Linked DNA regions of Homo sapiens. The protein of the gene in region 3 interacts with the protein of the main gene of each other region in a biochemical or structural test. Each region holds a gene or a part of one and is shown on either strand. Other genes may lie near its edges.

Region 1 (7,244 bases), on a different chromosome or scaffold from region 3:
TGGGGTAACCCCGCCTAGCACTCTGAAGAGAGAGAAGCGACTCCTGCGGCTCCTGCAGCCCCGCCTCCCCAGCCCACTGTAGGCCCGCCCCCACAGGGCTGCTTACAACTGTGAGGGCAGCGCCAGTGCCCCCACTCCAGTCAGCCGGCCACGCTGTGGCCAGTACAGTCTCCCTCTCCCGCCAGAGCTGCCCATGCCACCCAGCGTCTGCCTTCATGTCCACCTAGAGTTGTCTGCACAGCCCAGAGTGCCTGCCCCCTCTGCGGGCAAGCCCGTCCACACTGCCTGGAAAGTCAGTTCTGTCTCTGGCCCAGCAATGGAGTTGGGCTGTGAAATCAGGCAAAACCTAGTCCTTCCAAACCAAGGGACCAGGTCAGTTAACCGGGGAGCTAGGGAGGAAGGCAGAGAAGCCAGGTATGACTCACCCACCATGTGTCGCGGCCTGGGTGCACACCACTGGGATTCTCGCACATCCCATCCTTCAGTCGCTTTGTGTTTATTGAGCACCTCCTGCTGCAGGACCTCCATGTCTGCTACATACACAATGCTCACAGGCTTGCTGGTCCCATCCTTCAGTCGCTTTGTGTTTATTGAGCACCTCCTGCTGCAGGACCTCCATGTCTGCTATATACACAATGCTCACAGGCTTGCTGGTGTCGCTTTGCTTTACAGATAAGGAAACCGAGGCTCGGAAAGGTGAACACCTTTGCCCAGGACAGTCCGTGCGTGAAGTGGGACAGAGTTTGGTTGGAGCTCCGGCAGCCTGAGCCCTGTCTCCTGTGAGCCCTGCATGTCCCTGGGTCGAGGCTGGGGATGCAGGGGTACGTGGGGAGGACAGGGCCTGGCCAGGAGTTGTTCTTGCTTCATGCAGGTTTGGGGGACAAGCACCCACTCCTCTCAGACCCCTCACGTACCCTTACCCTGCTCACACACACTCACAGCTGTCAGAGACTCAGCCACACACGCACATATGCGCCCATAAGACAAGGCTGCCATGGTCACAGGCTTCCTGTGTTCGGGCCTTTGTGCCTGGAGACACCCCTCACAGCCCCGTCCATCTGGGGCAGGTGCTGCCTCATGGGGCACAGAGCAAGCAAGTGACCCTCAGCCAGCATTTCTCTGTGTGGTGGCCTATGGGATGACAGACCTGTGGGCCTCAGAGGGACTGGTCGGAGGCAGTGTTGAGCTCTCGTGTTGAGGCTCCTGAAAGTAACATGATGATGACTGCATGTGGCGGTGTCCAGGTGTTCTGTGACTATGGGGCACCCAGACATAGCAAGACTCGCCACAGCAGTGACCTTACGTGGCAGCATCCAAGCTGTCCGGACATATATTAGGTCTGTGGGGCACACAGGCATGGCAAGACTCCATGTGGCAGTGACCCAACTTAGCAATGTCCAATGTCCAGGCTGTCCAGACACACTGTGACTCTGTGGGGCACTCAGATCTGATATGACCTGCATGACAGTGGCTCCATGTGGCAGTGTCCAGACACTGTATGCCCAGATGTGGCAGCGTCCAGACACTGTATGCCCAGATGTGGCAGCATCCGTCCAGCTGTGTGGCTGCCCTCCAGGTCTTCCCATCCAGGGTGGCCCTATCACTGTGACCCCCTCTCTCAGGCTCAGCAGTGGCCGACACGGGCCAGGATGCGGGCGTTGGTGGTGGCCTGCTCCCTGGCAGCCCTGGCCCGGGCTTGCTCCAGTAAGATCTGCAAGAGGCCGATGGGGACATCCAGCGATAGGACAATGCGCGAGCCAGGGTGGCGGGTGGGGCTGCAGTGGCTCTGGGCAGCCCACGGCCATGTGGGAGCAGCTGAGGGGCTCTCTGAGGCCGCAGGTCGGGGAGTGGTCTGGGGAGAATTCTGAGGGCGGAGCTGGAAGGTTGGGATAGGGGTCACTGGGACAACCAGGACTCTGCCCAACATCAGGACCATCAGCAACAGCAGAGCACACCTGGTCATCGTGAGGTCAGGCTGCAAGGAGAAAATGGGCTCAGGGCAGGGGCTCTGGTCAACTGGGGTCCATGGACAGAGACAGATGGCAAGGGCAGAGTGACAGAGCGGGGGATGGAGAGAGAGGAAGACACCGAGAAAGGGGTTAGAGAGGCCAGGCCAGGCCAGAGACAGAGAAGGGGAGACAAGAGGAGAGCCAGAATGAGACAAAGAGGCAGAAAGCAAGACAGAAAAAAAGAAACAAAGAAATCCAGAGACAGAGGGACAGCAAGAGAGGGAGATGAAGGAGATGGAGGCAGAGCAAAATGGAGACTAGAAGAAAAAGACAGACAGAAACCATCCCAGAGACAGACAGCATGATGGAAAGAAAGATTCAGACAGAAACACAGAGTCCACAGGAGGGCAGGCGGTTCTCAGCAGGAGAGCTTGCAGCTGATCCAGGAAACAGAAGGGCAGGAATCGGATCTCAGAGGCAGAAAAGCAGCCAGAGATCCCAGAGTCCCCTGGGTCCAAGCCCTCCATAAAGCCAAACCCCACATCCACTCAACCTCCAAGACCCTTCCCATCCCGACCCAACCCAGTCCTACCGCCACCAGCTGCTTCTGGGGTAAGGCAGCCTGCTGTGGCTGCCTGGGGCTGGGGCCAGGCACTACTGTCCTGTGGTCTGACCCTCTACCCCGCTTCAGGGCCCATTTATCTCCCTCAGCCCCCTGGGGTGGGAGCTGGTACATGCTTCCTGGCATGAGGCAGCCCCCCACCTATGACTCATCCCTCCCGGGGGTGTCCTTAGCCCCCACCCTATCTACTCTTTTCCGGGGACAAGTTGGGGACTGAGAATCACAAGACAGTGACCAGGACTGGGCAGAGGGACTCTGTACCCATGCAGAATAATACCAACCCCCCAAGGAAAACCTTCCCCCTTGAAACCCCCCATCTTCCCAAACAGTCACAACAGGAGCCTTTTAAAACAGCAGCTTTAATGCCCCCCAGAATCAGCACCATGTCATCACAGGCTTGGGTCAAGGGGCGGGTCAGACGCCAGTCACATCCGCTCACTGCCCACAGCCACCCCCCCACAGTGAGTCATCTGCCAGGGTGGCAGGAGCCACAATGGGGGTTTGTCCACAGGGGGGAAGGCTAGACCCACGGGACCAAGTCACTGAAATAACGGACGTGCACACGCACGCTCACGTGCACACAAGCCTCTAGCACCAAGGGGAGGGACAGTGGGGTTCTGCTGAGACCCCGACTCCTCCAGGGGATGCTGAATCTCAGCTCATTATCTGGGCCTCAGTCCTGGGCAGTACCTGGTGAGGACAGGTTGGAAACGGTCGTCAGCCATCTGACCTTCCCCGGAGACGCTCAGGCAGAGGCACCGCCAAGGGGAGGGAGCGGAGGCTACAACAGGAAGTGGGGGCTCTGACCTCAGAGGGGTCCATACTTAGGTCTTTAAAGGAGGGAACATGGAAGGGGACCCTACTGGGGGCTCCACGGCTGGGGCTCTATATTCAGCTCTTTGGTCTGGGCGTCTGCCCCAGGTCCCCTACTGCGAGGGAGCGTCTCCTCCAGGACCCTGACCTGGAACCCTGGCCCAAGGACTCCTCCCCCAGAACCCGATCCAGGCAGGCTCAGTGCCCAGTTCCCCACGGTGGGGGCTCAGCCCATACCTGTCCCCTGGCTCTGGACCACCCGGGGTGGGCAGCGGCGCTCGCAGGCCTCACGGGTCCCAAAACGGTTGGCATTCCCTCCACAGCCACCATAGACAAAAGGGTGACAGGCCTCTGTGCTGCCTGTCACAGCCCGATGGTACCAGCGCAGGGTGTAGGCAGTGCAGGAGCCCTCATCCAGTGGCAGGGAACAGGGGTCTGGGCCAATGGGGTCAAGTCAGCAGGGTTTGTGGGAATCAGAGAGGGTTGAAAGGTCAGGGGGAGGTCAGCAGGGCTCAGCCCTGCCTGCCCCTCCCCAGACCCCGCTGGCAGCCCCCCATTCTCACCATCACTATCCCAAGGAGCTTCAGGGTCCTGGTACTCCTCCACAGAATACTCGGAGTATTCAGAGTACTCATCATCCTCAGGGGGTACCCGCTCTGCAGGTAGGGCAGGGTGTGCTGGGAGCAGTGGCTGCTGGCCCCGGGGCAAGGTGGGCAGCACTGATTTCCACTGTGTGCACACAGTGCCCATGCGTGTGCCCTGCATGCAGACCCTACGTGCTTGGCGTGTGCCCTGCATTCATGGACACCCATGTGCGTGTCTCGGCCCCACCCATAGCTGCCCCACGGGTTCAGCTGTCCTCACCTTCCTCCTCTGCATGAGAGACGCGGAGCACAGGCACAGCATGGAGCTGGGAGCCGGCAGTGTCTGCAGCATAACTAGGGAGGGGTCCTGGAGCCAAGAGCAGGGGCCTCAGGGCCCTGAAGTCACCATGGGCAGCCATCCCAGCCAACCCCCCTGAGAGGACCCCAGTTGATAGGCAGGGCAGGGCCTGGGGTGAAGAAAGTTCTGGGAGTAGAAAACTACTCACGTGATCCAGATGCGATGAACTGGCCCTGGCAGGCTAGAGGGGGCAGAGAGGGATAGAGAGACAATGACAGAGAGAAGGATGGGAAGATGGAGAGACAGACAGAGACACACAGGCAGAGGGGTAGAGATACACAAAGAGATAGCAGGAGAGGGTAACAGGAGAGAGAGGAAGAGAGAGGGTGGGAGGTAGATAGAGAGATGGAAAAAGAGAAGAAGGCAGAGGAGAGGGAAGTTGGGAACAGGCCAACAAAAGGCAAGAGACAGAAGCAGGCCAGACACAGAAACAGGCAGGTGGTGCAGACAGAGACGGGAAGAGACAGCTTCACTCTGATGCCCCTCCCACCGGGTCCAGGTCAGGCCCAAGGGGACCAGCTCTGCTCCCACCATCATCCCACTCCCCACACAGCCAAGCTGGACATCTGAGAGCACTGCATGGCAATCCTCATCTGCCTGTGTGTCTCCCTCCACTGGGGACACATGTCATGTGTCAGTCCTGCAGCACATGTGTCCTTCTGTGTATCCATCCATCCCCCCATCTTCTTGACTGCTTGCCCTGTAAGTTCTAGGGGCCTGCCTGCCCTTGCCTAGGGTGCTGGGGTGGAGTGGGAGACTGCGGGCTGGGCACCACTCACCACAGTGCTGACTCATCTCTTGGCGCACAAAGCCCCGGATGTCATCCTCCTGGGAGCAGAAGACCACAGGGACCATAAAGAACCCATGGCCCACAGGAAGGACATAGGGCACATAATACAGGGACTATGGTGAGACTGCATGGAGCCAGGGCCCAGGGGTCAGGGTGCTGGGTGAGGGAGGTAGGGCCCCAGCCCACCCAGGCCCACCCAGGCCCTCCCAGGCCCATCCAGGCCCACACTCACCGTCAGTGCAGCTTCTCCCTTCTCGCCTCGAGGACCGGCAGGCCCTGGCCGCCCCTATGTGCAACAGATGGGACCAGGCTGTGACCTCTGACCTCAGGGACAACAGAAGTCACCCCGATCTCTGACCCAAGCCTTGGAATCCCTACTCACCTGCTCCCCTCTCTCGCCAGGAGCTCCAGGGACCCCAGGAGCCCCCACCACTCTCTCTCCGGGGGGACCTCGCTCACCCTGTCAGACACAGGGACCAAGTGAGCAGGGTCAGAGGCAGTGGGGATCAGAGTCAGGCAGGTTGGGGGCCACAGCTTCAGAGGTTGGGGCAGGCAGGCTGGAAGATGGTTATGAGGTTGGAAGGGTAGGGAAGGTTCAGGGATCAGGAGTCAGAGCTGGGGCCCCTTACCTTCTGGCCCTGAAGTCCTTCGGGGCCTCTGGGACCAACACTGCCAGGTGGCCCTGGGGGACCAGCAGAGCCATCATTTCCACTGGGGCCTGGGAAGCCCCCAATTCCTGGGGTTCCCTGGGGAGATATAGGACAGAGTCAGTAATCAGAGGCCCCAGAGATGGACCCTCTCCCAAAGTGCACGCTCCCCTCAATTCACCATGACCATGGCTTCAACTCACCCGCTCCCCTTTCTCGCCCTGGTCACCCTTGGGGCCTGGCTGCCCGTCAAAGCCTCGGTCACCCTGGGAACAGAAGAAGCATGAGAGACCTTCTGCCCTGACCTCCCTCAGCTCTGGAACCTCCCTGAACTCCCATGAGCTCCCTGGCCTAATGCCCAAACCTTCTGTAACCCAAGCACCTGTGAGCCAACCAGATGTGATCCCCATGACTCCAACTCCACTATAGCCCCCTGCCCTGATGCACATGCCCCCTCCACCTCCCATGCTTTCATCCTAACTCCACTGTGACCCCAACCCACCTTGACACCTCGAGACCAGCCCCACTTCAGCCCCCAAAGTCCCAACCCTCTACAGCCTTCCTTGTCCCTACACCCCCATGACCCGACCATGAGCTTCCCTGCCCCATCCTGACTCCCTGTCATGTCCACTGTCCACAGACCCTGTACCTTGGGACCGATCAGGCCCTCCTTGCCAGGGGCCCCCGACTGGCCCGGCACACCAGGCTCCCCCTGGAGAAAAAAAGACATGAACTTGGCCCCCGTCCACCCGTGGCCCCCTCATTCTGAGCGTGCCCACACTCACCATCTCTCCTTTGTGTCCTGCCAGCCCGGGGCGGCCTGGGGGACCAGCTTCTCCCTGCAGGCATCAGGCAGTGGGGTGAGCCTTAGGCCCCAGGCCACGTAGCCCCCCAGCCCCCATCCCCTCTGTACCTTGTCTCCCTTCTCTCCATCAAGGCCACAGGCTCCCTTCACTCCCCGTTCACCCTGAGGGAGAAAAGCAGATGAAGAAGTGATTCCCAGACACCTCACTCTGTGACCCCCTTCACCCTGAAACTAACTCTCCAAACAGGCCTCAGCTACTCCAACCTCTGACCCAGTGCCCTAATATCTGACCCCAGGTCCCTCGCCCTTCAACATTAGGCCTTCCTGACCAGAAAAAAACCAATCTTGTTTCTTTCCTACCTTGAGGCCCCGGGGACCCATGAAGCCAACATCTCCTTTTTCTCCTCGGATACCAGGCACTCCATCCTTTCCTGGGGATCCCTAGCAGGGAGAGGGTCCATGTGAGGTCAGAGGAGGTCAGTGAGGGACCAAAGAGAATCGCCCTGGATAGTGGGTAGGGAACACCATGGGGTGGGAGTCACCTCTGGAGGCCAGAGCCACTGGGGCTTGCCATGGGGACAAGGGTCACCATAGGCAGGGGACACCATCATAGGCGGCTACTGTGGAGGTGGGGGACCCTGGGTGACATGAGGACACCATGAGAGCACTGGGTCAC
Region 2 (7,590 bases), on a different chromosome or scaffold from region 3:
TAACAAGAGAAAAACAAACACAAGTTTGTTGGCCGGTGCATCCTGCACGCCCGCAGGATAACTCAGGGATGAGGAACTCTGAGGGTGGTTAGAACTTGGGATTCTAGAGCATCTTAGCAACAGAGCAATAAATGTTTAGAGAAGTGACAAGACAAGATAAAATACTTTGAGTTTTTAGGGGAGGCAAATTGCAGGAAGGTAAATATACGAGGAAACTAATGAAAGATAAGGGCTAGTGAGTAAGGTTTGTTAGGTAGATTTCTCTGGCTCCTCCCGGCTAATAAAACTCTAGGTTGTCTCAGGGGATTAGGTCTGTTCTTCCTGGTAGAGAGAAGGGCAGACACCTTTACAAATGCATGTCCTGCCTTGGCAAATATGGGAAGGGTAAGAGCTTTTCTATCAATAGTATCTGCTTTTCCTAAACTGTCGTCAGCTCAAAATAATCCTTATGCCATATGGTATATTTTGGAGTCACATAGTTGGCTACCCTTCATCACAGAAAAACATTTAAAAATATTTGAACTGAATGACAATGAAAATACAACCCATTAAAACTTGTGGCATGTGGCTAAACCAATGCTTAGAAGAAAAGTTATATATTAAATAGCTTTAGATGGTTAGATTGTAAAATACAGGGAAAATGAAAATGAAGACTTCATCAATACAGCAGATGGCAGAAAAGAAAAAACAATAATAAATGGAAGAAAAGGGGGATAAAACTGTGCAAATAGAAATCACAATGTAAGATGGATGGTAGAAAATAATTCAATACATCAGGAGTCAAGTATCTTTACATTAGTTTATTAAAGTCCTTGGTTAAAACACAAAGATTGTTAGATTTAATTTTTAAAATTTAAATATATACCATTTACAAAGTAATTCTGAAACAGAAAAGACTGGAAAAATACAGCAAGCAAAAGTTATCCAACGGAAAGCTGGGATAGCTATTTTGATATCAGGCAAAGCAAACTTTATGAGAAGTATTATTTAGGATGAAGAGGTTAACAGCAAGATGATAACATGAAGAATTTATATATGCCAAACACTCCAAATATATAAAACAGAAATAGACAGACTTACAAGACAAAAATTGACAATCCACAAACACAACAGGAGGTAAACACACACCCTGCTAAAAGTGAGAAATCACGAACAAAAAATCAGTCAGAGAAAATAAGGGAGAACTGAAGAAGAAAGATGATGCTAATATTCTGTGTTCACATACAACTTTATCAAGTTATTGCAATACTATCTTGACATCAACCTTGCTAAAAACAAACAGGGAAGGCACAGCAATCTACATTTTAAAATACAGGAGACAGAGGACTAGGGAATGTGGGTGTCTGTGAGAATCAAACAGCCATGCTAGCAACCCAGGCAGAAATGAAAACGGACCTTCCCGGCTCCTCAGTAAAACTTCTCTCCTATAAGTCAAGCTCTCTCACACTTTGCTAATTCTCTCGTCTATCTTTATTTTACCGCCATGCTCAGATGTTGAGGAAATAATTATGTTATTAAGTGTAAGTGCTTTGAGCACTTTGGAGAAATGAGCTTTATAAATATGAGCCATTTCTATTCACCTGAGAAGCTGATCAGCTTTTTCTTCTCACCCTGGCCCTCTTTGTACCCTCTACAGGACATTTACATCCCTGAACAACATGCTCATGCTGAGTCCACGGAAGATACCAATGACTCACAAAGGCCAGAGAGAAGTGCAAGTGTAGAAACACGCCACATTCACACATCAGCCATGGGGAGGGAGGGAAATCGTTGTTTGCTAGAAATGACACTCCAGAGGTTTTGCTACTCATCATCTTCTTGCTGCCCAAGCCTCTGTTCAGTCCCCCACCAGATGCGTCATTCAAGTTGTAAAGCAAATGTACTATTTCTTGACATTTCTAGAAAACTACACCCTGGACTGCACCCTTACAGCTGCTCATGTCCATGAAACATTCTGTGTGGAACTCCATCCAGGCTAGCAGAAGTCACTGGACAATGCCAAAGCCCACCCAGGATGGACCAGTGGGAGCCGATGAGCCTGCTCTGTGTGACGAAGGGACGGCAGGCTCCAAGAACAGCCACCAACACCAAGACCCTTCAGTCCCAGCGAGGTGGCCTCAGGGTAGGAGGATTTCTAGGAAGTTCAGAGGAAACAAGGTAAGAAAAGAAGCCAGGGTTCATCGTCTCTCTTTCTAAACCCCATACTGTAGGGAAGTGGTCCTCATGCCCCCAGAGGACATGTCTGGAAACATTTTTGATGGTCACAGACAAAGAGGGGAGTGCTACTGGCATCTAATGGGTAGATGCCCAGGATGCTGCTAAATTCCTCCAGAGCTCAGGGCAGACCCCAAGGCCAACAAGGAATTACCTCACCCAAAATGTCAACAGTGCTGAGGATGGGAAACCCTGCCCTGGGAGACCAACGTTGCCAGATCCCTGGCATCTCAGAGCCCATAAGGCAGACAGGAGAGTTAAACTCAGGTGGAAATCTACCCCTCAACCTGCATAAATTCCATTACTGCATCATTATCTGAAATGGAAAGCAGAACAAAAACCTCACAAAAACTAGAACAAATGAATGAATGAAGGAACTAATGAAGGAATGAACTAATGAATGAATGAATGAATGAACTAATGAATGAATGAATGAAGTAATGAATTTGAATTGAAACACAGATTCAGTTTCATGTTGCCTCCAATCTCAAGAGGATCCTAGCCCAGGCAGCTCTGAAAGAAGGAAGAGAGGGAGGTCCAATTTCCTATCTCCATAAAGAGACTTAAAATGGGGAGTACAGAGTCTTGAAGTCCTTCCCCACAACAGCTTTCCATTTGTTCCTCCAAATGCTCATGGGCTTTAAAGAGTTTTGGTAATTTCAGAAGACCTCTTACCTCTTCACCTGCAGGAATTCACGAGAGTGGAGCAGCCGTCTGGGAGGAGGGCTAGGGACAGCCAGCCGGTCTTGCAGGGCCCCTTGTCATCAGCTCAGCCCAGTGAAAGGAGCACTGAGCCCAGCGTCAGGCCTGGTTCTCACCTGACTCTGTCACCCTGGGCCTGTGGGGTCCCAGCAGGTCACTTTTTACAGCCTCAGCTTCCTCATCTGTGAATAAGGGGTCAACAGACCGTAGTCTCCCACATCTCCCCATTACATATGGAATAAACTCCCAACTCCGCAGGCCTTTGGAGCACCTTAGTGCAGAGCAGCCTCTGCACCCACCAACACCTCCCTCCCATCGTCCTCCTTCTCTCCCGTTCCTCTCAGCCCTGGCTCAGTCCATGCTGATCCATCCTTTCTGTCTGAAACCCCTCCTGCTCTCCTCTCCTGTCTTGAGTAGACAGGACTGCTCTCTTCTGTAGCATTTTTTACCTACCTTTCTTTCTTTCTTTCTTTTGAGATGGAGTCTCACTCTGTTGCCCAGGCTGGAGTGCAATGGCGCCATCTCAGCTCACTGCAACCCCCACCTCCCAGGTTCAAGTGATTCTCTTGCCTTGGCCTCCTGAGTAGTTGGAATTACAGGCACTCGCCACCATGCCCGGCTAATTTTTTTTGTATTCTTAGTAGAGCCGGGGTTTCACCATGTTGGCCAGGCTAGTCTTGAACTCCTGACCTCGTGATCTGCCCGCCTCGGCCTCCCACAGTGCTGGGATTACTGGCATAAGCCACCGCACCCAGCCTTCCCTACCTTTCTAAACCATGAGGCCCTGTATGGTTAGGGGCCACAACTTACTTATCTCTGAACTCGTGGGTGTCTTGGCAATACCTGGTACACAGTAAGTCCTCAATAAATATAGGATGCATAAACGAGTAAAATCCAAGCCATTTCCCACTAAAACCTCCAGACCTCTGGTGTATGATGACCTGCTGTCATAGCCCAAAGGAATGGTTGAGTTTCAGGTATCCAGAGAAAAATGCAGGTGTAGAGCTTTCCCCTCAAACGTATTAACAAATAGATGGTGCTCAGTCATTTTCGCGGCAGGCTGCAGAGAAATCTTAAACTTTCGTGTTGTTTCACTGAGGGTACGGCAGAAGAGCCCAAGGAATGTGAAAGGAGAAACTTGCATAATTAGACTTTATGTGGGGAGTAGGCACCGAGTGTGTGACAAGCACAAGGGGCTACGTGTGCGGCCAGATGACGCTGCACGGTCAGAACCCACAAAACAACACGGCAACAGGTGGATTTTAAACCCCTTCTCTGCTTTCAAAGCAGGTCCAGGCTCTACATTTACAGAAGGAGAGTTAGGGCAAGGGGAATGTGGGGGAAACTGAAATTAGTTAGAACTAAGATCAGCAATAAAATTCTTCAAAGACACTGCTTCTCACTTTACCAGGATTTTTGTTTTGTTTTGTTTTGAGTTTTTATTTCTTCTTTTTCTTTTTTGTTCTTTGCTTTTATCAATGAAGCAAGTTGCTAGGATGCAAAAGGAGTTGGGGGGTAGAAGGGCGGGGTGGGAAGCAGAGGTGGGAGGGGTCGAGGTTGGAGCACCTGTCGTCTGCATGACGTGGACGGCTGGTTCTGGTTGTATTTTAAATGAAATCTCATCCCAGCGTAGACACCACGTCTGGAATTACGATCCACCCTGTGATCTGTCACTTTTATATACACACAGGGGAGGGGACCGTTTCCATAGAGAGGGAATATCACAGCCCACTTAGGAACAATACCGGAGAAGCAGGAGCCGAGACCCCGGAGCAGCCACAAGTTCATGGGGACGTGCACGGGGCCGCCCTCCTGGCCCTGAAGCTGCGCCGGCCTCCCTGAGCGTTTCGCTGCGGAGGGAAGTCCACTCTCGGGTAAGCTTGTGGCTGGGACTGACTTATGAAGGGTAAATGTATCTGCCCTAATTTAAGCAGGAGGTGCCATGCACTAGACAGGTGTGAGAGATGAGAGCTGCTAGCGCCCCTGGGTGGAAGCCCAAGGGAGCGATGCTGAACGCCCCCCACCCAATCAGCAGAAATCAGCCCCAAAGGGACCAGGGGAAGTTTCTCAGGGAGGCACAATCACATTCCCACGTTGGTATAGAGAGACCCTCTTTCCAAAGGTGTTAGATCAGAGGCAGAAGGTGTTCACACAAATCTGTTTTCTCTGAACAGAGCACAGCTGTGCACAGGAAAGTCAGTCCTCGGAGACAGTTTACAAATGGGGATGGGGTAGGGATGCCGGGGCTAATGGGAGCCACAGGACATGACTCCACGCCGCCTGCAAAGCAGCGAGGACACCTGCACTTACTGTTTACCTGTGCCACAAACCTTCACCTGTGCCATCTCCCGTCACTCTCGGGCACACCTGTGAAGCAGGTAACGTCTCCTTCCTAGGACGCGGCAAGTGAAATGCAGGTTAAGGGATTCACCCAAGAAAAGTCAGAGGCAAGGGAGTTTCCCCAGCCAGGTCCTCTGCCACCAAAGCCCAGAGCCCTTTGCCACACTAGGAACATTGCGGGGGTGTGTGCAGATACCTACAATGGCTAACTCCTACCTGTGAAGGGGAGATGGATGTTTGATGTTTATGTTTTCTGAAAATTCCTGTTCGCAATTTCTTTCCCAAGCATAGCCACCTACCAAAAATAACAAATGTGAGATTTTTAAAACGTTTTAAGTGGTCTAGTTTCAGTTTAACTTCTTATCAGTGTTTGCAGACAAACGGAGCCCACAGGAATAGCTCTGCACTTGGCAGAGATGTGTGATCAGTACTGTTTGCCTCCTGCCTTTGCTGCTTCATGTCCTGTCCTCTCCCTGTGAGGTGCTGGGAATTGGAGGCTGACCCAGGTCCCTCACGTTTCAGTGCTTGGCTCTGCCACAGCTCCCAGAAGTAACTGTGTCTCTTTACAGCATCCTCGACAAGTGCTACTGTCACCATAGCCCAAAGGAATGGTTGAGTTTCAGGCACCCAGAGAAAAATACAGGTGTAGAGCTTTGCCCCTCAAATGTATTAATAACTAGATGGTGCCCAGTTATTTTCGTGGCAGACTGCAGAGAAATCTTAAACTTTTGTGCTGTTTCACCAAGAATATGGCAGAAGAGTCCAAGGAATGTAAAAGGAGAAACTTGCAAAATTAGACTTTATGTGGGAAGTACAGAGTATCTTTTCTTCTTTGGGGAGAGTTCCTTTTCTTTTATCCTATAAACCCTAAACAAATCTAAACAGATCCTAAAAAGAAAAGTCCTGGAAAGAAATCTGAATCTACCTTCCAGCCCCCAGCCACTCACACACTTTGATGGTGAAACCATCCAGGGTTGCAAAGAACCCTTACATTTTAAACGATCTAAAACTAAGCTCAGCACCGGGCGTCCCTATCATGTCCAATTCACAGTTCTGGGAGGTTCCTTTGCTGTGTAACTTTGCATCATTGCTGATGGTAAGGGGACACCTTTCAATACCCTCACAACCGTGTGCAGGCTAGAGCTGAGGGTTTGCAGAGAGAGAAAGGTCTGCTACCTGCAGATGCACCAAGAACAGAGCGCCACGCAGGACACTTGCTCCCTGACACTTTCACAGATTTTTCCACACCTTCAGCACCCTAGCCGTGATTACAGTATTCTTCTCTGATGGTAGACTTGGGATTTGAAAAATAAGAAGGTAATGCATTTTTTAAAAGGCACAGTATTTACAAATTGACCCCAAAAATGTGAAAAAGTAAATATAGAGGTAAAAGGGATCTCACTCCCTCTCCCCAATGCCTTGCTTTTGTAACTGAGATGAGACAGGTAGCACTTCCAGGGAACACATCCAGAGGCTAGCCCATTGCAAGGGAAAACCTGAACTTTTTCACAGGAAAATTGCAGAAAGTTACTTAGACGAGGCTGTTTCATGTTCAGAAGCCCTCATCTTTCAAGTGACTCTAGGTACACATGTATGATTTCATAATTAAAAAACAAAACCAAAAAAGTATGCCATATAAAAGATTTTTTCCTCTGTGATACGTAACAACATGATTTGCAGAGAGAATGTACATCCATGAAAGAATTTAAAAGAGGTTGTTTTGCTTTGGAAAATAAATTGATTTAATTAAGTGCCTGAATACTAATCTGAATTTCAATTCATTCAACAAATATTGATTGAGAATATGATTTAGTATAAGGCACTATTGGCCATGTCAGGCTTTTCCAAGCATCCTGAGTCACTGCTGAGAGCCAAATGACCCAGAGGGATAGTGAAAGGCTTGGCATATTTAGCAGAAATGGAGACACCAAAGAAATATAACACCCAAAGTGTCTTTAAGGGGTGGAGATAGACAGGTAAACTCAAGTGTTGATTTACACTAAAGGGCCAGTCCGTGTGAGCAGAGCCCCAAGATGGGCTTGAACTCAGAAAGTAGTCTGAGTTCTCAGTAATATTTGCAATTATTCTGCAAAGTTCTAAGTGCTTGAGGGTAAATGCAGAATGCTGCCCCGGGAAGGAAATAGAAAGGAGCAGGGAGGGGTTCCCTGGGCTGGGGTGCAGGGTTTGAGTGAGGAAGCAAAATAAACAAATGGGGTGGTGGGGCAGTGGGGAGAGAGCCATGTGGAACCCACAGAGGGAGGCCTGAGGGTAGCTCCAGGGTTGCATCTCAGCACCCTCTAATTTTTTTAATTTATTTATTTTTTTGAGACAGAG
Region 3 (7,311 bases):
ATATGGGCATAAAAGCAGTATGTATCTCAGAGGGAGTGTGGGCGAGTGGGATTATGGATGCCTGAGATATGGATACAAAGCTCTCTCAGTGGTAGCTGGCACCTGGAAAATGATCAACACTTAGCTTTGTGGCAGATTCTCTGTGCTCAGCTGAGTTGAAAAATCGCAGAGACTAATATCTAAACTGCTATCCCCACCCGGGCGATTCCTGCTCTCTAAGGAATGAGGCTTCAATGCGGGTTTGGCTATAGCATAACAAAATTGGGGCAGGAAGTGGAGCCTGAACGCTCCTGTTCTTCCCCTAGGCTTCTCGTGGAGGTTTCTCCCTCTGTCATTCTTTTTAAAGGAAGGATCCCAAGGAAAAGGCAAACAGAGAAGCAGGAAGCAGCACTGATGTGAAGAAAGGGGAGGAGGGAAATCAATCATGCATTTCCACAGCCATTAGCAGCCTCTGCTCTTCCCACCTAGGCTGACCTCACACCCCAGGTGCTGGTTAGTGGTAAGTGCTCCCCACCCTCCACAAGCTCCTCTCATTCTCCAGCAGTTGCAGTGCAGGCAGCACTTTGGTCTAAATGAAGAAAATTGTTCATTAGATACCAGGGGCTAATTGGCCCTACTTTTACCAGCCTGGGTGGTGCCCCAACCTTTTATCAGCTTCTCATTAGACTTAATTGATATGAATGGCCTGATATGTGCTGTCTGCAGCACCTTTGGGAAGTCTTCCTTGTCACCCCGCCCCCACACCCCAATCCCATAGACCTTGTGCTTCCCCCCTAATTAGGGCATTCATCATTCTGTTCTTTTTGTCTGTTGCAATTGTGAGTGAGAGCCTCAATACAGTGCCTGTGCAGTGGCTGGCACATAGTGGGTATTCCACAAATTGACTGAGTATTACTGTACTCAGCTTGGCTATGAAGAAGAGACCCAGGCCCTGGGAAGGGGGGGCCCCCAGGCTGGTCGGGGAGAACAAGGCATAGCCCAGGCTGGGGTAAGAACGAAAGCAGAGCTCCCTGAGGTTCACAGGCTGTGGGCTGAGATGCTCCATCACCCCACTTTACCCTGGATGGCCCTTAATCTCCGGGCCCAGTCTGAATCAGGCATGCTGATCTCCATTGCCCCACCCCACACAGCTCACGGAATCCTAAAAATACAGTTTTATAAGGTCAGGACTAGGAAGGCACAGGGAAATCATTCCTTCTGCTTGCACACCTCCTAGCTTGGGGATCTTACTTCCTTCTAGGGAGATCTGTTTTAATCATGGATGGGAAGCATGTGCTCCCTGGGCCCACCAGAGCCCTCAGCTGGTGCAGCCAGGAGAGTGCGGCTTGGCATCAGGTGCAGGTACATCTCTCTTGCCTTCTAACCATCTCTCATGGCAAAGCCCTCAGCCTCAGCTTCTGAAAGCTTGTGTGTGTGTGTGTGTGTGTGTGTGTGTGTGTGTGTATGTGTGGTGGAGGTGGAGCTGGGCTACCAATCAGACACAGACACTCTGAGGATGTTTCCAGGATGAGAGGCTTCAGACAAACAATCCAGATAGGGTCTCAGCGTGCTTGACAACTGGGGTCCGGCTGGAGATATCAGGGGGGTTCTAGGTGGGGCAGTGATTGCTGCCCCCACAGCCTCCCGCAGACCACACACCTGGCTCCCATCCCATGTTCCACAGGGCACAGACAGGCACCTACCCACACGCACACACCCAGAACCCACACTGAACGACCCCACCTGGAGGCTGTGTAACTCCAGCAACCTCTACTGCCCTTTTCCCCAGAGCCTCAAGCCAGTCCATGATTTGCCAGGAGGAAGGCAGGCACAGGTTGTTCTCCTTGAGAGATGGTGTTGGGGTGCTGATTCAGACACCACTCATTATGGGGGCGCAGGAATAATGCTGCCCACAGCCCCTGACTCAGCCCAGCAGGTCAGTCCTGGGACCTCGGATTAGGGAAGATGCAACACCCCGCACCCTCTGGCTTAGCAGAACCTACGCCTGCATGTCCTCCCCACGAAACATGCGCTCGCCCCAGCCCTCCTGCCTCCTACCCTCCTCCTCCCCTCTGGTAGTAGGGTCTGGTCACTGCACTCACTCTGGGGGATTTGGGACTTAGCATATCCGCCCTCCTGGGATAGGTCCCCCTCCTGGGCAGGGGAAGCATTGTCTAAACAATGAAGCCCTAATGGGGAACTTCAGGCAACGGGAACCTACAATGAGGGAAGGAGGTTTACACTCCAAGAGGAGGAAGTATTTCCTTCTCCCCTTTTTGGGCTGTCACCGCATGGAGCACGGGAATTGTGGGCAAATCACTGGCTTACTGAGATTAGACGCTGTATTGGGGGTAGAAGCAGAAGGCGCGCCCCCAACACTGTAAGGGGTCCTTAACGCCCGCGGTCCGCGGTACCGCGGCCGTCAGCAGCTTTGTACCGCTGGGTCCGGAATCCTCTTTACTCCCTAAACCGCCTTCTCAGGAGGCCGGTGTAGAGCAGGCAGCGAGGGCCGGGGGCACTCACGGGTCGTGTTGTACTTGACGCCGTTGAAGTACTCGGGGCACGGCCTCTCCACGAGGGCTCCGGCAGCGCTGCGGGGCCAGCACGTTCCGATCTGGTCCAAGGTCGTGTTGCAGTAGGAGTAGGGACCTGGCGGCGGGAGAGAGCGCAGTAGGGCTCAGAGGGGCCCGCAGGGACGCGGGGCTCTCGGAGCGCGGGGTCAGGGGCGCACCCAGCGCGCGAGAGAAGGAGCCCGCGCAGCCTCCGACCGCTCGCCTCCCGCCTACCCTCGGGGTCCAGGGGTGGCCCCCAGCCGTCCAAGAGCAGCTCTTCAGCCAGCGCCAGGCTGCAGTTGGCCTCCAGCAGGCTGTGGAGCAGTGCCGCGTCCATCGCGTCCCGCAGCCGCGTGCGGAGAGGGAGTGGGAGTGCGCGCCCGGCGTGACTGCGAGGGAGTGGACGCGAGAGTGAGCGGCCGAGAGGGCGCGGGGTCCTGGCCCCCGCCAGCCCAGCCCCGATCTCCCGGGCAGCCTTTGGGCGCCACCTCCGGTCGCCCAGAGCTGTCAAGTGGGGACCTTCCCGGAGAGGAGCCGCCGAGTGCACGGAGCTGCGGGTACAGCCGCTCCGCCGCGGCCAATGGCTGCGCCGGGGGGCGGGGCCGGGCGGCTCCTCTCGGAGGGGCTCAGTCTCCAGCCCCCGGGCCCTCCACCCTGCCCAAAGTACGGCTTCTCAGTTCGCAGCTCTCTTCCACTCGCGGCGTCCAGAGGAGGGCGGTGGGCTGGAGAGCGTGGGCCTGGGGTGACGGAATGCTCTGTGCGGGGATCGCAGGCCCCCGAGCTGCAGGGGGCAGCAAAGCGCGCCCACCTGCCCGCCTGCCCGAGGAGAACACCGCAGCTCTGCTAATCGAGGGACAGCCGCAACCCAAAGTTCGGCAGCTTTCCGCCTGAGCTTCCCCTCCCTGAGCGAGGACACTGGAGGGAGGCAGAGACGGAGAGCCCATGGGCAGATCTGCATCCTCCAAAAGCCTCCATAGCCTCTGGGAAGGAAATGTATCGAGGAGGCCTGGAGGGAAGCAGGGAGACACCCATGAGTCTAATGAGATCAAGTGGCCTGAGTGGGTTGAAGTCCTTGGATCAGACCGTGGAAGCTGGAATGGAGAGAGATTTCGGAGGGGCAGCCAGACCTGGTGAGGAGGAACTGGAGTGGGTGGCTGGTTTTAAGTAGGAGCCCAGAGGCAGGGATAACATCAGGTCTCCTGCTTGAGTGACTGGGTGGCCATTTAATCAGATGGAGTAAGTCTAGGGGAGAAATTGGCTGAAATTATCTGGAAGGCTTTATACACCCAGTTGTTAGTGCCTTGGGCACCAGAAAGAATAAAGGAAGAAGTGAGAATGTGTCTCTCTTCCTCAAGGCTTGGGCAGGGCTTCACCTGACCCTGGTTTCCACACCAGTAGCGGGGCAGGGGCGGGGAGAATCAGGCCCCACAGCAGGTGTGGAGGAGCTGGAAACCTCCCCAGAGAACTTGCCCAGGCCCCCCACCCCACCCTGGCCCAGAATGCCTCCTTGGTGATCTGCTGTGGCTGCACCCTCAGAGTGCCCAGGGCGGGCCTGCTGTGTCTGCCAGCTGAGTGGGGCATTGGGCTCGGGAAGCAGGGCCTGGGGTAAGGCATGCTTCCACTCAGGCTGCATTTTGGTCCAGCCTCTGACTCTGCTCTCCCTGCCATGGTACCCCAGGCAGGATGCTTGCCCTCTCTTCTGGAGCTTTCTCCATCAGTGAAATCTTCCCCGAGGCCCCTCTCAGCTCTGAGACTCTCTGGTTCTGAGTTATGAGACGGAGAGTCTGGGGAAGACATACATGTGTGTTGTGTGTTGTTTGTTTCTATCTTTAGAGGGCAAGGAGAGCTGGAACCTAGTCTCAGAAACCAGTCCTGTTCCCCTGCCATCCTCCACATAAACCTAAGCTGCTAGGAAAGGCTGAAACCACCATGAACTAGCACCATGCCCTGGGCAGAGAGAGGCAAAGCAGCAGGCAGGCTGCTTTTGTGTGCTCCGCTCTCACCAGCCTCCATATTAATGGTGCTGTCACTGCCCAGGCAGAGCGAGTGAGACCACACTAAGACCAGGGCTGAGCCCTGGAATCTCTCCAGGGCCTGCTGACTGGCAGGAACAAGATGCTGAGCAGCCAGCCAGGTCTACCCTCTGCCTCCTGAATGGACAGTGAGAGCCCAGGCTCAGCTCTGGGCAGCTGCAGAGGTAGAGGTTCCTTGGTCTTCATATTATCCAGTGCCAGGAGCAGGGGAGGACCTAGGCAGAGTCCTACCCTCCGCTCCTAGACTGAGCCCTGTTACCCAGGGTCCCACACAGGCCAGAGGGTGGCTGGCCAGGTCAGCCCATGTATTCACAGGGCAATAGTGTCCCTCATATACAAGGGATAGCCCTTCACACAGCACGGTGCAGCACAGAGGAAGGGAGAAATCCTAAGCCAAGCTTAAGTTATTATCCTTGTTCATTACTGCAGCCACCACCTAGGTGGTGCCTAAAGCACCTATAGATGCAGCTATGTCAAGAGGTGGTGTGCTCCCAATGACCAGAGGCCAGGGACTTCTCATCTCATGCAGATTTCTGCAGAACAGAGGGTTGGCCTGGGTGAACTGGATTGCTCTTAACTGGGAGAGCTCACATACCAAAGATTCTTCTGGGAAGTGACCATTTCAGTGGCAGAGTCAAAGGCTGTTCTGCATCCTGAATGAGCAGTTGGGGTCTGAGCACATACCCACAGACCCACAGACCCGAGGTCCCCTGGATGTGGGGCCATTTCTTCATGGATCTTATTATTATAGGCACAGTTGTCATTCGAGATGTGACAGAGGGAAAACTAGAAAAGGTAGCAGTTTGGGAACAAATTGATTTTACAGCTCACTTTAGTGTCTGCAAACAGGCAAATGAGGAAGAAATTGGGAAGAGCCCCAAAATTCCCTCAATTTTACTAAATCCAAGTACAAACAAACAAAGACAGGGGCATTTTTGCTAACTAAAGAAGCAGAGGTAGATTAGAGGCTTTGGGATAGTGATGGGTTCCCAGCGCTGCAGGCCAGCCCCATCCCAGCTGGAGGCCAGGAATTAGGGGATAAGTATTTGGAACAGTTTGTGTGTCCCCAAGCTGTTGGGGACAGGTTGGCAAATAGGTTCAGGGAAGTGTGACAGGTACTTTGGAAGACCCCTGTGTACCATGAGCAGCAGAGTAAGGCAGGTGCCTCTGGTGCCCTGCATCCCATCCCATGGCCCACCTCTGATGTCAGCTGCAGCAGCAGTGGACAGTTCCAGGCCAGCTCAGACACACTTGCAAAGCCTAATACATGGCATCAAACAGGCATGTAGGCACAACAGAATCACACACAGAGCCACAGTTATGCATCTTCACCATGCACACACATTCTCTCTCTAATTCATCCCCTACCACTCAAATGTCAGCTGGAAAACAGGATTTAAAGGGACAGGATGCATCTTTGCTTCTCTAAGGGACTGTCCTTGGTTAGACTACATAGAGAGGGAGTCTATTCAGGCACAGCTGGAATAGTCGTGGTGTTTCCTGGGAATTACGACGGGGTTGCTGAGGGCACAGAGGTTCCAGAGGGGCCTGAAGGTGCTGCACTTTTGCCCTGTAGCACTGGAGACAGGGGTCCCAGGCCAGGCACCCCCTCCTCACCCTATCCTACTCCACTGCAGGACAGAGGAATTGGCCTGGTGTCTTCATGTCAAACCATGGGACTAAGCTGTGGGGACAGAAAGGACTCTCAGTGACATCCAATCCCACATTCTTGTTTTACAGATGGACAATAGGATTCCCAGACAAGCAAAAGAGGTTTCCCTCCCTTACTTCTCCCAGGCCATCCTCATCTCTGCAGCAGCCCAAATGGGCTCCCTGTCTCCTCATGGCAGATAAAACGATGTTTTATAATTACGATCCTGTCACTCTTCCTCATAGGAGTGCCGCCAACCCATTGCCCTTGAGATGGAGACCACCTCTTTGGTATTGCAAAGAAGGTCCTTCGTAATCATCTATCCCTCATCCTCACCCTTCTGCTCCATTTGAAAGGCCCTCCAGAACAACATGTCATTCCTGGGAACCATCTTTGGTATTGCAAAGAAGGTTCTTCATGATCATCGTCCCCCATCCTCACCCTCCTGCTTCATTTGAAAGGCCCTCCAGAACAATGTGTCACTACCAGAAACCATTCGCTATCTCTGTTCCTTGTTTGTATTTCTGCACTGGAAATGGCCTTACAGCTCCACACTCATCCTTCAGACATGCAGCTCCTTGGTGACCCCATCTGCTGGGTGCTGGCCTATGTCACATCCAGGTTGCTTTTTATTCATTGTCTCATCTACCAGCCCATGCCTCCCCAAGGGCAGGGCTGGTCCTGGTTCACTAACCCATCCCCAGCACCCATTGGAATGCTCTAGACTTCAGCCCAGTGAGTCACTAAGAAAGGACAGATACCTTGGCAGAAGAGCTGAGGAAAGCCCAGGTCCCTGTCTTCAGGCCAAGGCTCTCTTCCCATTTGACCAACCCTGGCATATGTGTGTGTGTTGCATTGAGGAATTATTTCAAGGTATCTTTGAATCCATTCGGATTCTTGGCCAGGTGCAGTGGCTCACACCCATAATCTCAGCACTTGGGGAAGCCAAGGTAGGCAGATTGCTTGAGCACAGGAATTCAAGACCAGCCTACAAAAAATAATAAAAAATAAATAAATAGTCCATTTGGATTTTTATATCATCTATGGATAGGATAAATAATATGCCTCATAATATATGCCCTAATATTTTTCAAAT

What was found.
Region 1: the proteins of CRHR2 (region 3) and UCN2 are reported together in a solved structure, tested with the Homo sapiens proteins (one study listed by IntAct).
Region 2: the proteins of CRHR2 (region 3) and UCN3 are reported together in a solved structure, tested with the Homo sapiens proteins (one study listed by IntAct).

Annotation. Positions count from the first base shown.
Region 1 is NC_000003.12:48,561,162-48,568,405, forward strand, and holds UCN2 (urocortin-2 preproprotein), read right to left. Parts: upstream 2,621-7,244; 5' UTR 2,542-2,620; intron 1,976-2,541; 5' UTR 1,964-1,975; coding exon 1,625-1,963; 3' UTR 557-1,624; downstream 1-556. Other genes in the region: COL7A1 (collagen alpha-1(VII) chain precursor), read right to left, coding at 3,245-3,261, 3,622-3,819, 3,948-4,040, 4,249-4,335, 4,475-4,507, 5,106-5,154, 5,349-5,402, 5,499-5,576 and 6 more. UniProt on the Homo sapiens protein: Suppresses food intake, delays gastric emptying and decreases heat-induced edema. Might represent an endogenous ligand for maintaining homeostasis after stress.
Region 2 is NC_000010.11:5,360,441-5,368,030, forward strand, and holds the start of UCN3 (urocortin-3 preproprotein), read left to right. Parts: upstream 1-4,525; 5' UTR 4,526-4,790; intron 4,791-7,590. UniProt on the Homo sapiens protein: Suppresses food intake, delays gastric emptying and decreases heat-induced edema. Might represent an endogenous ligand for maintaining homeostasis after stress.
Region 3 is NC_000007.14:30,679,413-30,686,723, forward strand, and holds the start of CRHR2 (corticotropin-releasing factor receptor 2), read right to left. Parts: upstream 3,045-7,311; 5' UTR 2,869-3,044; coding exon 2,766-2,868; intron 2,629-2,765; coding exon 2,503-2,628; intron 1-2,502. UniProt on the Homo sapiens protein: G-protein coupled receptor for CRH (corticotropin-releasing factor), UCN (urocortin), UCN2 and UCN3. Has high affinity for UCN.